Linked DNA regions of Homo sapiens: region 1 is linked to region 2. The links come from fine-mapping of genetic effects on gene expression. A gene starts in region 2. The other region holds a variant in brackets. All regions are shown on one strand. Distances are between the middles of the regions.

The links. PIP is the estimated chance that this variant, and not a neighbour inherited with it, causes the effect.
Region 1: its variant is fine-mapped to the expression of MEDAG in subcutaneous fat (FUSION, PIP 0.95).

What each region holds. Positions count from the first base shown.
Region 1 is chr13:30,876,556-30,884,889 of GRCh38, forward strand. It overlaps LINC00545 (long intergenic non-protein coding RNA 545), which reads left to right and starts at 6,007. Exons shown (of 2, transcript NR_103813.1): 1 at 6,007-6,104; 2 at 6,539-6,840. It overlaps TEX26-AS1 (TEX26 antisense RNA 1), which reads right to left. Exons shown (of 4, transcript NR_038287.1): 3 at 7,383-7,505; 4 at 6,280-6,780. The variant A/G (reference allele first, on the strand shown) is at 3,829.
Region 2 is chr13:30,901,684-30,910,017 of GRCh38, forward strand. MEDAG (mesenteric estrogen dependent adipogenesis) reads left to right here and starts at 4,588. Exons shown (of 5, transcript NM_032849.4): 1 at 4,588-5,110. The coding sequence starts at 4,833. The region is part of intron 2 of TEX26-AS1 (TEX26 antisense RNA 1); the gene reads right to left. RefSeq lists an enhancer at 5,189-5,690.

The DNA.
Region 1 (8,334 bases), 25 kb before region 2:
GTACAAATTTTAAGCTTTTATATTAAAACCTATTTATGCCTAGTGTTCCATTATTGGAACACTAAGCATGTGGGAGTTATTTATGTCTTACTGCTCAAGGTCATCACCAGGGTCTGATTTTTCACACTCAAAAAATTGCAACCTCAGGCATAAATGGGTTAAAATGTACTATGACGTATCTCCAACTTCATCCTGGAATGGTTTTATCTGACAGGTTTAATAGTGGCAATGAGAATAAGTCTGGCTGGGCGCGGTGGCTCACGCCTGTAATCCCAGCACTTTGGGAGGCCGAGGCGGGTGGATCACGAGGTCAGGAGATGGAGACCATCCTGGCTAACACGGTGAAACCCCGTCTCTACTAAAAATACAAAAAATTAGCCGGGTATAGTGGTGGGCACCTGTAGTCCCAGCTACTCGGGAGGCTGAGGCAGGAGAATGGCGTGAGCCCGGGAGGTGGAGCTTGCAGTGAGCAGAGATTGTGCCACTGCCCTCCAGCCTGGGCGACAGAGTGAGACTCTGTCTCAAAAAAAAAAAAAAAAAAAAGAAGGATAAGTCTGACTTTGCCAGCAGGAAATTTTAAAAACAACCTCTCCCTGTGTATGTAACTCACATGGTATATACCTTATAATTCATGTGGCTGGCCATATTTTATTTATGAAATATTTGGAATCTGGAATCCAAAATCAGGGAAGGTGCAGATTCTTTGTTCCCTATTCATAGTGGAAATTAGTTCAAGTTGCTTTATTTTTAGCATTGCCATTCCACATTATTTTAAAGATAAGACTTTTGGGGTGACACTTTATTATTATTTTTATGTGTTTATTCATTTTTCCAATAATCAAGAAACAGAAAAATCAGAAGAAAGCCAGAGAAAAAGTGAGTTTCCTGTCTGCAGTGCTCAAAGCATACCACACACATTAGGAAATGACAGAAATGCACAAGCTAGACATCCAGCCAATCAAAACACATTGCCCAGAACGGTCAAGTTTAAATGGGATCATGCATTCCAAGTCTTGAAGTTTAAGACACATTAACATTAAGCCTTTCAACTTCACATAGTAATACAATCCAGCAACAACACAGCATCAATCAACAAAATCAGACTAAAAGAAAGAGCTTGTGCTTCCCCCAAGGGAGCCCTGTAGACAGATTGCACCTCAAAGTTGAAAGGACAGTTAAGCCTTCTCCTTGTTGCTTTCTCTGTTCTGGGACCACTTTGCAGTTTTCCTTCTTTCTGAATATGTTTTATCTCAGGTACAAATAGGTTGGCTCTTCTGCAAAAGACTAGCCAACTAGTCTACCACAGAGTTAGTTAAGTCTCATTATTTCGAATAAATTTGTGTTTTATTTTTAAACTCATTGACAACTCTATGTGTTTTTAATTAACTTCTTTGACTTCAGTTGTTTGAAATCCAAAAGTGGGCTTGGATAAAAATTAGCTTTATCAGTTTATGCCAGTGTGTGTTTAACCAGGTTTTTTCTTTACTATACATTAACTCCAGATAGATGGGGACTATTTGTTCATCAAAGGCTGGCTTTTCCTGCATATCTCTGTGGCAGACACTAGTTGGGTTACCTTGTGCAAAACGGCTCACACCAAATAGGGTTGTGGGAAGAACTGACACTTCCAAAACCAACTATGGTTGCAATTGTAAACAAGTGTCAAAGAGCCCGCATTCTTTATAAAGCTTAGCTAGGCATTGAGATGTAGGCTTTTAAAATATGACTTATTTGTGGGTTTGTTTTGGTTTTTTGTTTGTTGGTTTTGAGACAGGTTCTCACTCTGTTGCCTGGGCTGGAGTGCAGTGGCACTATCACGGCTCACTCTAGCCTCAACCTGTTGGGCTGAAGTAATCCTCCCACTTCAGTCTCCTGAGTAGCTAGGACTACAGTTGTGTGCCACCACACCCAGCTAATTATGTTTTGTTTTTTGTTTTTGTAGAGATGGGGTTTCTCCATGTTGCCCAGACTGTTCTGGAATTCCTGGGCGCAGGTGCTCCTCCTGCCTCAGCCTCCCAAAGTGTTGGGATTACAGGTGTCAGCCACCATGCCTGGCCACAATATGACTTCTTAAGCACCGTTAATACACCTAAGTGTTGGGCCCTATCTTTCAATTTGCCAGATACAGGGTGGTCATATAATTTATTGTCCATGCAAGGATCTTGAGAATGGTTAGGGTTGCTAACCCGATGGGTTGCCAGGACATCTGGTGTAAACCTGGACATCCATATATATGGGACTCTTCTGCCCCATGTGCCACTACCAAGTGTTTTTGAAGGTGTGTTGAAAATATTGCTAAATTTCACCTGCTAATTGTTCTGATGAATCTATGAATTTTTTTTCATCCTGGAATCATCCATGACTTCCTACTTGATCCATCAGATATCAGTATCTCACTATTTCTGGACCCCAGGACACTTTTCCACCACGAAGTTCTTTTCCTGCTTACAGTGCTACTGTCTGTTTCCCATCTCTGTTCGTGGAGATCCTAGTGATTCTTTGGGACCTAACTCAGCAGGATCTCTTCCAACACTTTAGCTTCCACAGGGCTGTATTTGTATCCTCCTTAGGGCACTCACCTCTTTCGGTTTTGTTATATTTTTATGTGTTGTATCATTTTTCATTACTTAACTGAAAGAAGGAACCAACCACAAAGCTGCACCTCTACATTACACATTGAATGTGAGCCCCTTGTTTTAGCTACTTCTTACGTGTTTGGTGAATTGTTTTTAAAAGTGTGGTAGGAAATAAACATCCAAGAAGGTAGAAAGCCTTGTTGTATTTGGCAAGGAACAGGCCGATGCTACTGCTGGATTTGAATGCCAGCTTCTCCAATTAAGAGCTGTGCAATCTTGTGCAAGTCACTTAACCTCTTGGCGGCCTGTAAAATGGGGATGATAATAGTACCTACCTCCTAAGATACTGAGTATTTAATGTTGCCAGGCACTGTCCTCACAGAACAGTGCTTGGCAAACAGTGCCTGGCAAGACTAAATACTCAATATCTCAGCTATTTTTATTGTTCAGACTTCATTTCCCTATTTTTTGAGGTTTTATTCACATTTTTGAATTGTATTGCAAATAAAAGAAAACCAAGAGCTATCGGCATGTGTAATGGAGGGAGGCCTAATGGCCACCTCCGTCAGGCACACCAGCAATATCCACTGAGAACTAATGCCTTGGTGACCCAAAGGTCACTTGATGGGACAGAATAAAATGTCCTCTTGACTTGAAGAGCCAACCAGGCCAACCCCAACCTCTCAACTTGAAATCAGAGAGTTGAGGTGCTGGTTCTCTGCACATCTGTAGAATAGGGACCATAAGAGTACCTACCTCATGGGCTTACAGTAAAGATGTAATGAGATCATCTATGTAAAGCACTGATCATAGTTTCTAGTACCTGCTCTACATTTGCTGTTGTTCACAGCATCTGTCCTGGAACATGAGTTGATTGTTGAGAGAGGTGTGGTGGGTGTTCTGGGGAAGATATCCTCATATTTCCTCCAGCCATCAGGAACCTCATGGCTAGCTCCATCAGGAGAAGCTCAGCAAGAGAGTGAGAATGCAAGCCTCTCGTTTTTTTATTAGAAATGGTGATTAGGAGACTGCCTTCCCCTCTCTGCGAGCATCCAGTGCAGGAGGGCCAATATCTACAGCTGCAAGGATGATCAGCTTGATGCTGAGGCAAGAGTTATGATTAGCAACAGAAGTGGCAAATTAAGTTCACTGACTAGCAGGCTGGGAAGAGCCAAGAAATCTGTATTAATCACCAAGGACAGAACATGAGCTCTTTGAGACTCTGCAGGGAGAAAAGAGGCTGAAAGTACCC[A/G]CAGTACTTCTGGAAGGGGGCTCAGAACCAGTGAGTTTTCATTAGCATGGCTATTGCATCCTACAACCCTGGAGTCACTCACCCAGACTATAGTGACCTAAAGAACTCAGGGTTACACACAGCACAGAGCCACTGTCCCAGGGAAAGAAGTTTCTTTGCTTCCAGGCGCCTCTGTACCTAACTGTTACTGTTCTTTTCCCAGGGTCCCCAAAGAAGAGAATTCCACCAACTTTTCTTGGCATTCTCTGCCAATAATTAGCAATTTTTTCTTTATGTTTATCCTTATTAATGCCTATTCCTGTTCAGCTGTGCTCATGGAAAGATAGCCAGTGTGTTTTGCACTTTCCCAGGCAAGCACATCTCAGAGTCCAAATGGCACAGTTGCCTTCAGTTAATTTTCACTTAGATCTTAACCTTCTGAGTTTATTTCCACTTGAACTCTGGGTATTAAAGTAGAAATAATGCTTTGTGACCTTTAAGCGGGACACCAGCTGCTTCTCCACCCTTTCCCCTGTGGTTTAGTGACCCACACAGTCCAGTTCTGCAATAGCCTTGTTTCTGGAGTTCTAACCTCCTTCCCAGCAGGGAATGACTAATGCTTAAAGCCACGCATTACACGAAGGTTTACCAGGCAGAGCAAATAAATGGTCATCGGAGACATGCTTTCAAACAGAGATCTCTGTTCTTGGCATGAAGGTTAAGGTTAGTGAAAAAAAGTCCCACCTCTGCCCCTTTCTGTTCAGTTCCACCCCTTTATCTTCCCAAGGACATGATGAGAAAGATTTTAAAAGTGATCACAGTGGTTTATCTTCATGACATGGGCAGATTTCCATGAGTCCTGTGATTCAGTGACACTCTGAGGAACCCATGACTGTGGGGTGGGCTTGGAACAAACTCACTGTTGGCAGAAGCTGTCCACTTCCCCCATTTTTTGCTCTGGCAAAAATAGATTTCAATGGCAGCTTAGGAAGGGGCCGCAGTGGGGAAGAGGTTGTGGTAAGAGAACATTCTTTCCCATTCTCCAAATCTTCCAAACCAAGCTTTGCTCCATGGGACCACTTCACCCAGAAGTCTGGGCTGGAGCTCAGGCTCTGACACTGTCATGGCTCCCAGCTTGATGGATGGGAGGAGGCAGGGAGCTGGGTTTCCAGCCAGGAACTAAGGGAACTCTACGCTCCTACAGTCCCTTTACTTACTGGGATGGTGTTCACCGCCTCTGCCCACTGAGCCTGCCAAAACAATCTGTCACAGCCAAGCCCAATCACTCCCCATTCCCTGCTCCAAAAAAGAAGAAACCTTGCTGCAGCTTCATAGACATTTGGTCAATCTGCAATAATAAAAAATAGAGGTAGTGGGGCATGGGGAGAGGGAAAGAAGAGAGGCTGGGGGCTGGTGATGGGACAAGTTGAGTTTGGAGCTGCAGAGTGGGAAACTATGGGATGGGCTGGGAATACACAGGGGAGGATGCCTCCTTAAAGTAGGCTTCGGACTATGTATATGGATCCCCTTTGGGCTTTGGGATAATTAGTGAAAGATCAGAGTTATCTTGAAATTCCTTTTGTTTACAAGACTGCATGTTTGGCTGCTCTATGGGGGTCCTGGCTGTGTAAAGGTCACACGTGTAAGTGGATTATGGGCTCATTCATCTCCACAGGGCAAGCTGGAGAAGTTTTTCTTGACTCACTGGAAACAGAAGTAAAAGGCTGAGGAAGGCATTGCGGGGTGGTTGTATCACACAGGCGATGGTGAAAAGTGGAGGTGATGTGGTAGGGAGGAAGACATCTGTGTTTGCTATTGACTTTCTATTTCTTCTGCCAGGGAGCCTGGCATCCGGGTCTCCTGTTGCCCAGCAGTGGAGCAGTCACTTCATTTCACTGTGTCTCACAGTTGTCTCTGCTGTTGGCAACTGGATGTGGGAGGGAACAGTGAAGAGACTACTAAAGTTTAATGTCCTTTTTATGACCAACTTTTGTTGCTGGCACCTTCCTCTTGGAAAAAATACACTGATTTATGACTGAACCATCCCTACACACGGAAATCAAATCATTCTTTCTGTCTCTTAGCTTATTTTTGTTTAGAGGAGCGGATGGCTTCCATAGGCTGTTCAGAAAATGGCTGGGACAAATCGGAGTAAAAAAACTTAAAAGTTTTTATTTCTGTCTCTTTCTCCCCACAGAGGAGTTTGAAATTCTTGCTTCAGGCCATATGGAGTGGATATTCCTTCCAGAAGGAAATTACAGACCACTCTCTGTTTCTACTCAACTGCTTTTCACTCCGTAAGTGGACTCTTTGAAGCAGCCTTTTATTTACCTCAGATTCTGACATGAATAATTGTTTAATTGCCTTTCAGCCTACACAAGATAAGGAACCATGTCTCAAAAATTGTATAATTCTCTTAACTAAACAATAGCCAAGCCATCCGGAGTAGTTTTCAAAGGAAAAAAGAATTCCTCACATATGTTAAGCATTTTATTCTTTTCAAAATGCATTGCTCTGTATTATTTCGCTAAATTGGATAACGTATACGAAAGCACTGTGTAAATTACATCACATAACAAAAAAGTGAAATGTTATAACAATGATCGATTTGATTTTCCATGTGGGAAACTGAGGCTTTACGGGAGTAAGTTACAATCCCAAATCACAGCAGTTAAACGGAGCCCAGACAGTGGTCTGTCTTCTACTTCCGGATGTGCTCTCTCCTCTGCAGAGGATGCTTCACCTCTTGGGGCCTTCCCCAGCAGAGGCCCAGGATCACCTGCAAAAGGCTTCCCCAAGGGTGGGGCCAGAAGCAGGGCTGCAGATATGTGTCCTGAACCTCCCATGGACCCTGCTGGCTCCCTTCAAAGGCTTCGGGCATAGCGACTTGCCTTTCCGTCTTGTTCAGTCGTCACCAGTCAGCCGTCTGCAGACTTCTCTCCCTCACGTTGTGGCAGAGGAGTTGTACATTCTCTAGATTTTAAAAATATATAAGTTACTTTTTCTTTAAAATAAAAATTGTCTCTGAAATAAGCTCCCAATACATTTGCGTATTTTTAAAACGTGTTAGCAAATTCTCATAATAGGATTTGCGTTTGTTAGAAGAGGACTGGGGCAGAAATCACAGAGGAATGAAGCACCTGCCACTCCCTCACCCCTCAGTGGGTGCAGCCCACCCAGGGAGGCAGCAGGATACAAGGTGGAGGAGTACCCCGATACCCAAGAACCCCATGCAAAGGATAGAGCAGCCTGAGAGCAGGGGCAGGATACCAGAGGGAAGGGCTCAGGAGGGTTTCAAATGTATCAAAGGACACAATCAACAGAGTGAAGGGGCAACCCAAGGAGAATCAAAGAAAATATTTGCAAATCATATATCTGATAAGGGATTGATATCCAGAATATATAAAGAACTCCTGGCCAAGCACAGTGGCTCATGCTTGTAATTCCAACACTTTGGGAGGCAGAGATGGGAGGATTGCTTGAAGCAAGGAGTTCAAGACCAGCCTGGGAAACAAAGTAGGACTCCATCTCTACAAAAAGAAAAAAAATAATTAGCTGGATGTGGTAGTGCACACCTGTAGTCCCCACTACTTGGGAGGCTGAGGTCCGGATTGCTTGAGACCAGGAGCCCGGAGGCTGCGGTGAGCTCTGATCTCACCACTGTACTCCAGCTGAGCTGATACAGTGAGACCCCGTCTCTAAAAAAAAAAAATTAAATATTTAAAAATAAGAACTCCTGCAACTCAACAACAACAAAGTCAGTCCAAATAAAAAATGGGCAAAGGACTTGAATAGACATTTGTCCAAAGATAATATGTATACAAATGGTCAATAAGCATATGAAAAGATGCTCAGCATCACTAATCAATCATTAGGAAAATGCAAATCAAAATCACAATGAGATACCACTTCACACTCATTAGGAAGGCTACTAATGAAAAAAAAAAATAGAAAATAACAAGTGTTGGATATTGAGAAACTGGAAGCCGGATGCATTGGGAATGGGCAGGAATGTAAAATGGTGCAGCCACTATGGAAAACAATATGGTGGTGCCTCAACAAATTAAACATAGAATTACCATATGTTTCAGCAATTCCAAAGAAACATCATTCTCTGGGGTAAACACCTGAGGTTCGCCATCTCATGCCAAGGATATCGAGTATGCAGACACACAGGAAGTGGGTTTAGGAGCAGAGGTTTAATAGGCAAAAGAAAGAGAAAAGAAAACAGCTCTCTCTTCTGCGAGAGAGAGAAGGGCACCTGAGTGGGAGTTCCGGCTGGTCGTGGAGTGCACAGGGTTTTATAGAAAGGCTTGAGGAGGCGGTGTCTGATTTACATAGGGCCCAAAGATTGGTTGGACCTAGTGTGATGTTTACATAGCTTGAGGGAAGCTGGCTTCCCCACCCTAATCTTATGCAAATGGGCTATTTGCCTGACGAGCTCCATGTTGTCTGCCCCCTGCTGCACATGTGGTTGGCAAGGAAAAGGGAAGATGAAACTGCCATTTTGAACATGCCTATTTCCCA
Region 2 (8,334 bases):
AGAGAATTTTTTCAGGGAGTTTGACCATAGAGTGAAGAAGAGAGATGGAAATGTACTAAAAGGGAAAGTGAGATGTTAAAATGTTTAAAAAGTTATTTTTTTTAAGACAAAAGAAACCTGTAGATGTTTGTATGCTGACAGAAAAATCCAAAAATGGTGGCAGTGGTGGTGCCTAATTGATTTTTAATCTTTTGTGAATTTGGTAAGGTTGAATCAAATTTCTGAATATGAACTTTGGACCCCCAAAGCTGAGAAACTGAGCCTGTGAGCTGCTGATGTCCCCATAGCACAGTTACCTTAATGGGGACACATAAGGATGGCAAAATCTTTATCTTGTCTTTTACCTGTGAGCATAGCCACAGACTCACCAATGGGTGATTGCCTTGCTATAAAGTCTCTAAATTTGAGTGGTAACATTATAGCTAAACTGTTAATCTCACTTGTAGCGTAAATAGCTGTGAGGTACCCTACCCCAACTGCAAAGATTTAAAACCATGAAAAATCACTGCTGGTGAGAAGACAAATTGGTGCCAGCCTTTAGGAGAATAATGACACACGTTTCCAGAGCAATGCACATTCTCATATCATTTGTCCCAGTAATTCCATCTCTGAGAGCTTGGATACAGAAAAACGAAATCAAAGTATGAAGATGTTTATTGCAGCATTGTTTATAAGGAAAAACAAGAAACAATCTGAGTGTTCAAGAGTAAAGAAATGTCTAGACAAACAATAGAATATACACTTGATGGAAAATAGCATAGTGATTTAAAATACTATTCACAAAGAAAATGAAATTTTCACAACATAATATACATATAATGTTAAATGCACAAAGCCGAATAAAAATTCTACGATAGGAACACAACTATGTAAGCAAACCAAAAAAAGACTGAAAAGGTCGTCACCAGGAGTGATTGTTTGCCTGGCTGGTACTTGGGTAATGAAAAAGACATTAAACATGAAAAGATCTCTCTAGCTCTCTACTTATTAGCAATGGCTTACATTACATTGAATACTATTTTTTTTCTGTTCACTTTTTCATATCTTTCTCTGGCATTTTGGTAATGCATAAATTACCCATAAAGAAATGCAGGTGTTTTGCTGAAAACGCATCAAATGAAACCTCTAGACAACATACCAAGAAAGCATCTTTAAAATATTTTTATTATGCTCAACATCATTTTTCTGTATAAAACAATACACATTTATTTGGAAAATACAGGAAAAGTGTAAAATCACACAACTGTGGTGAGGTAAAGAAAAATTTCGTTTAATTCTTCTACTCAGATCTAAGTGTTGATATCTTACTATGAAGGAAACGGATTTTTTTTTTTGAGATGGAGTTTGACTCTTGTCACCCAGGCTGGAGTGCAATGGCACGATCTTGGCTCATTGCAACCTCTGCCTCCCAGGTTCAAGCGATTCTCCTGCCTCAGCCTCCCAAGTAGCTAGGATTACAGGCATTCAACACCATACCCAGCTAATTTTTGTATTTTTAGTAGAGATGGGATTTCACCATGTTGGCCAGGCTGGTCTGGAACTCCTGACCTCAGGCGATCCACATGCCTTGGCCTCCCAGAATACTGGAATTATAGGTGTGAGCCACCGTGCCTGCCCAGGAAACGGTTTTTTGATAGGAGGGACTGGTATGTTTATCTTAAACAAATGCATATAATTCTGATATAAAACCCCGATGTAACATTTTACCCTTCAAGAAAGCCAAATCATTCATAGACAGTGTGGTGTAGGTTTAAGGGCAATCAAGAGTTGTTGAGCTTGATCTATGTGAAGCTCATAGGGTGAGTTGTTGAGTTCGATCTATGTGGAATGGGGAGAGTAGGGGCTGGTGAGGGCTCTGTAGTGGACCTGCCCTCCTTGACTTACTAATTGAAAGCAACTTCTGCAGCTGTTATTGTTGTTGAGGTTGTATTCCACCAGCAGGTTGGAGACACAGGCAAAATATAACTAGATTTCAGCCACATGTTTGGACATGGTGCCAGAAGACTAGTTCATGCTGATTCCTGCATTTCTCCCTGTTATTTGAGGACAGGGGCCATCCTCTATTCAACTCTGTATCTCCAGCAAAGCACTGAACATAGCAGATGCTCAATTAACATATGTTGAAGTAAACTAAAGGCCTGGGTTCAAATTCCTACCCTATCATGTATTAGCTAGATGCCCCCATCCACTTCTTTGGCTTCAACCCCGTCTTTGATCTAGAGACTTTCAAATCTCAATCATTGACCTTGTCTTTCCAAAACGCCAGACCCAACTAACTCCTTGCCTCCTGGACTTTTCTACCTTGATGTTCCATAAGTAGCTCAAAATCAGTATGTCCCCCCTGAACTCATCACTATCTCTCCTCAAACTCCTACTCTTCCTCCTGTGAACCCTAGCTTCGTTAATGGTGTCACCATCTCTCTGGGTACCCAAGCAAGAGACTAAGTGGGTCTCTCTGCTCTTTTTCATTTATTTACTCATAAGATCCTTCCTGCTGACTCTGACTCAAAAATGTTGAAACCTCATCTCCATTCCCACAGCTGCTTCTGTTCAGACCCCCATCATATGTTATCTGGATTATTACATCAATCTCCTAACTGGTTTCTCTGCCTCTGATCTTCCTGTTTCAAAACATCTTCTTTGGTCATAACCAAAGGTGTCTATCTGAACTGAGGCATAATTATATCACTTCCTTTCTTTAAAACATCCCAAGGCTCCTCATTGTCTTAAGAATCCAAATTCCTGACAACTCAGAGGGTCTGTCACAATCTGGCTCCAACAGCCCTTTCTGGTCTCATCTCATATAAAACTGACCCCTCTTATCCCAAATAGGATGGTCTGCCCTAGCTGTTTAAAAATTTCCCCCCTCCCCCAGATGGAACCATAGCATCTCTCTTTGCATAGAATGGTACAGAATCTTCTCTCCCATCTCCTTATTGCTGCTGCTCCTTCCCCTGGGAGCCTCCCCTGTGTATTGGAAGTCTAGCCATGTGTCACCTCCTTTGAGCACCCTTCTTGGGGCAGAACCACTTATTTCTCATAGTGCTTAGTCCATACATCTATGGTAGCACTTATTGGATCCTTGTGTGTGTGTGTGTGTGACCTCAGAGCTTAAGATGGTCCCTGGTGCATAGTGATGACTCTGTCAATGTTTGGGACAAGAGTGAAGTTCTAAATAGGGCACAATGGATTTAACTGCTGGCACCAAATCCCTCCCCTGTGAAAACAGCCCCAGCCTCTGAGTCCTGTCTACAGTCTCAGCCCACCCCAGACCCATTCTCTTTGCAGGGATCCTCAAACCTCCCTTTGCAAGAAGATCTTCTGGATGCTTTTTTCACAGGTAGAGCATCCTTCCTGCGCCACAAAAGGTTGAGTGGGTAGTGATCAATTCATGCTCAGTGAATTAGATTTGTTCAGAGAGGCCCAGAGATGGGGTAATGATCCCATGGGTAAAAGATCCATGTCTGGAGAAAGGATAGGTGTGCACCTAGAAGAAGAGAAGAGAGTGGGGCTCATTTATATTCTGAGATTTAAATGAGATGTGGCGGGAGGACTCTTCATCCCATCTGATTAAACCTACACAAGAGTTCATGTGGGGGCACACAAAGACTAACTAAGGATATTCTCTACGTTCTACTCAACTTTTGGGATGTAGCTTAGAATCCTAAAACACAGTACTACAGAAAGCCTCGAAACTAGGCTAGATTCTCCTCCCATCCCATCCAGGCTTCTCCGCAGCAGAAATAGGTGTTTAATTAAATGGAATAATATAGTTCTCCTTTCATACCTCAGGAGATCAATGAGCCCATAGCTAGCACTCACATATTTATAGACTGAAGAAATGAACATATTCTGGGGCTCAAGGAGATCACCACCTACTGGGGAGGCAGGGGAGAAGGGAGGATGCTAGGACCCTGCTATCCCCACTACACGGCACATTGCAGTCTAGGGTTCACCGTGCAGTAGAAAGGAGAAGCAAAGCGATGAAACCCTCGTGGGATTCGTGAAGGCTTTATGGAAAAGCGATGTGATGATCAGTGGGATTTCTAGGGGGAAGGGATCCAGGGCCAGCAACCAGCTGAAGGAAAGGCTGAAAGGAGGGAAATGCAGGGTACGATCTGGATGGAGTTAAAATGGCAGAAAACTGAGGCTGAGTGAGAGGTCTGGTACTGAGGTGGGGATCGGAGTTCCAGCACTGGCCTTTGACAGCCTCTGGGTCCCAGGTGGAATGGGTAGGGCCAGAGCCCTTGCCTTCTTCTCCAATCAACACCAGGGGTGTGGTGTCTTAGGCAAGGATGGGTGCTGTGCGCCCTGCCGCCCACCATAGGCAGGGCCTGGGAACCCGGGGAGGACTCTCCCCACCTCCAGCCTCCGGCAGTGTCCGCCAGGCAGGGCGGGGGCCAGCGCTGGTGTTGAGTAGTGGACCCCAGGGGGATGACTAAGCCTTGCCTGCGAGCAGACTCGAGCATGCCAAGTTATGAGACGATGATAACTCTGCCCCGAGCCTCTGGGGTCGTGGCCGTGGGCCGGCAGGGGCGAGGCGGGCGTCCAGAGGGCGGATAAAAGGGGCCGCGCTGCGCCGGGGCCGCTTTCTCCGCGCGGTGCCTGCAGGGCTCCCAGCGAGTGGCAGCTTGGGAGGGGCCGCCCGGGCGGTCAGACTGGCACCTGAGCGGCCACCGCGTCCCGGCCAGGCGGGCAGACCGACCCCCTCCTCACCTCGCGCGCGGCTGACGCAGGCAGGGCGCCCGGCCCCTCCTGGGGACCATCAGGTGCCGGCTGGGGGCTGTAGGCACCGGACGGAAGCAGGCGGTGTGAGGACCGACGACGCGGGCATGGCGGGGGCGGCCTGCGAGCCGGTGGCCAGGCCGAGCCTGACCTCCATCTCGTCTGGGGAGCTTCGCAGCCTGTGGACCTGCGACTGCGAGCTGGCCCTGCTGCCGCTGGCTCAGCTGCTGCGCCTGCAGCCCGGTGCCTTCCAGCTGAGCGGCGACCAGCTCGTGGTGGCCAGGCCCGGGGAGCCGGCGGCGGCGCGGGGGGGCTTCAACGTCTTCGGTGACGGCCTCGTGCGCCTCGACGGGCAGCTCTACCGCCTCAGCAGCTACATCAAGAGGTGGGTGGCCTCGCCGTGCGCCCTGGCCCGTCGCCTGGTACCCGCAGACGCCTCCACCCGGCTGCGGTCTCTGGGAGCCTGGGCTGTCCTCGCTGCCTGCGACACCGCGTGGCCCCTTGCTCCGTGCGCTTCTAGACTTTCCTTCTGCTTCTATCACCCGGAGCCTGCACGCTCGCCCTGGTTCTTCTGCCTCTTGCACTGACATTTTGCAGCTGCTGCTTGAAGCCGCCCAGAAGGGCATCAGGACTGGGGGCGAGGGGGAGGGCAGGGGCCCCCCAGCCAGAGCTCATGAGTGGCAGATGCTTCTCCCATTCTGGCTCCTTAACTGGGTCAGATGAGCTCAAATTGGGAGCACACCCTTTAGGGGCTGTCTGCAGCTCTGCAAGACTCACATCCTGGCTTTGGAGCATGGGTGGCGGTGAGGAGCAGGGGGCATGCACCATTCTGAGCACTGCCAGCCCTCTCCAGTGAGGAGACCGAGTGGAGAAGCATGCAAAAGCTCAAAGTTTCCCATCTCTGGCCTCACTTCGTGTTTCAAAAGTAAACAAATAAACCGCAGCTGAGAAGGGAACAAAGCCCCTGGAAGTCCAGCCCGGGGCCATGTGGGCTGTGGAAGGCACAGATAAGTTCTGGGGAAATAAGTGCGAAACCTGAGGGCCTTAATGGGAAGGAGGCCCCCAGGATGCTTGACTGTTGTGGCCAGAGTGCCCCCAAGCTCTTCTTGGCAGACCGGCAGGATGTGGCCCAGCCATCTGAAGCAGGCTTTGGTGCCACAGGGTAAAGGAGGGCACTTCAGGCCTGATTCCACATGGCCTCAGGCCTCCAGAGTTCACTCTTGGCAAGGGCCTGGAGTGCAAAGACCTGTTATATTTGTGCTGAGAGAGCCAAGTGCCTGAAGAGGCAAGCATGGTCTAGAGTTTGACTCAGAAATGAATAAGATAGCCAGCTTTTGAGACACAGCGCCTTTGCTACTGGGAAAGACAGCGTGCTGTGGCACCCTGTGGGTAGGAGGGAGCCAAGAGAGGGAAGCAAACAAAATGAGATATTGAACGTGCAGTCTTCAAAACTCTTGGAGAAAAAACCTTGCTTTTCCAAAGATAGTGAGGGCTCTGAATGCCTGAAGAACCATTCCCCAGCAAGAATTTCTCCCTTTCTTAGTGAAATGAAAATTCCAATTCCAAACCATAAGCGGAGGACTGTGGGAGGAACTGAGTCAGATGTGTGCAGATTTAAAAAGAAGATACCCATTGTATTTGAGAGCAGGGTATGAAAAATAAAAATGTCCAGAATGAACGAAGCCGTAAGTTAGGGTTTTGACAGAACCAGTTCTCCTAATTGTAGCAAACAGTGCTGCAGAATCTGAAATGATTTTGAAGTCTGTCATCTAACTTTTGCTTTGAACACCTCCTACACAAAAGAAAATTAAACAACAGTGATTCCCCTGACAGCTTTGAATCTAGAATAAACAACTGGGCCACAGTGACCAGGTAACACAGACCAGGGTGCAAATACAAAACAACAAATAATAGGCTATCATTGTATAAGCAATACTGTGAGGGCTTCTTTTGTACCTGGGAAATAGCAAGGAGCCTCTGAAAATAATTTGGGTGATGGAAGGAGCTATCTATTGTCCTCAGGCAGGGAAGGAGGCTTTTATAACTGAGTGTGCAGTCCTGAAGGATGGCCAGGAGGGAATGTGGTCTAAATGGAGACAGCCTTCCAGGCAGAGGGGGAGGACTGGACTGTGGGCAGCAGTGAGAGGTTCTGCCCTCGGGAATCAGGAGGTGGGAGGTATGCCGAAGCCAGAACTCAGATATCTAAAGCTTCGTTCCTCTGAGCTGCCAAATTTGCCAGTTGTTTTTGGCTTTAGAGATAGCATAAAACCTCCCTCCCTCCCCTCCCTCCCTCCCCACTTCCTTCCCTCTCTCCCTCCCTCCCTCCCTTCCTTCCTTCCTTCTTTTTGAAAAATAAGCTCTGGCCAGTTTTATTAAAGATTTGCATGATTTATTTTCACCAGTCTGTTCTGGCATGCTTCCAAAGATCTCAGGGCTGGGTGCAGTGCCTCATGCCTGTAATCCCAGCACTTTGGGAGGCTGAGGTGGGCGGATTGCTTGAGTCCAGGACTTCGAGGCCAGCTTGGGCAACATAGTGAGACCTCCTGTCTACAAAAATTAGCTGGGCATAGTGACATGCACCTGTGGTCCCAGCTGCTCAGGAGGCCGAGGTGGGAGGTGGATGGCTTGAATCTTGGAGGTGGAGCTTGCAGTGAGCCGAGATGGTGCCACTGCACTCCAGCCTAGGCAACACAGTGAGACCCTGTCTCAAAAAAAAAAAAAAAAAAAAAAAATCTCAGCATTCCCTGGATCAGTGACACCAGGGTGCACTTGCTATGGTATTTTCCACATGCTGTGCCCAATTTAATGTTATTACTGCTGGAGTGGTAGATGGCAGTTTTGAGAGTATGCACCTTAGTTCTGTATTTCAGATTTCCTCGAGGCCAGGCAGTTGGTGGGGATGACCGGTTTCACTTTGCCTTGTCTATCATCTTCAGAGCCGGATTGCCCCAGCTTGTATTTTTGACCCTTAATGGGTTGGAGCCTAGAGTGGATGGACTCCAGTGACTTTTCGTCTTCTTTGCGGCCACCATATTCTGGCCTTGGATGTGGGATGGCCTCTAACCAAAAGCAGCCACCAAGATGGCCAGGGATCCCAAAAGGCAAAATGGTTCTTAATCATTTTGGACCATAGAACTTTTGAGAATTCTACGTAGATTCCCCAGAAATGTAAATATATACCCAATTTTTGCTGACCATCCAGGATGTTCATGAGATACTTGGACCCAGGTTAAGAATCCTTGCTCTATTAATTAATTAGTTCTTTTTAACTCAACAAATATTTTTGGCATATGGGATAAGCCCCTGGTGTAATTAGAATTTCTTTCTGGGACCTCATAAGTATGTACTGTGGCTTTCATGAGGCCCTTTTCCAAGGAACCCCGAAAGGCTAAGAGCCACCGACCTTGACTTTCAGGTTATTCACTCGCTAAGAGAGCAACAGGATGATTTTAGCAGCCCTACTTAGGTTCATTTTCTAATACTTTAACATTTTTTCTAAGTACATACCTACTAAGTAACCTAAAGAAATCCAGCATAGTGGGAAGGTTTAGTGATGACCACCAGCTCTAAAGCTCCTTCAAAAACCTACTTTAAAAATATTTGTCCTAT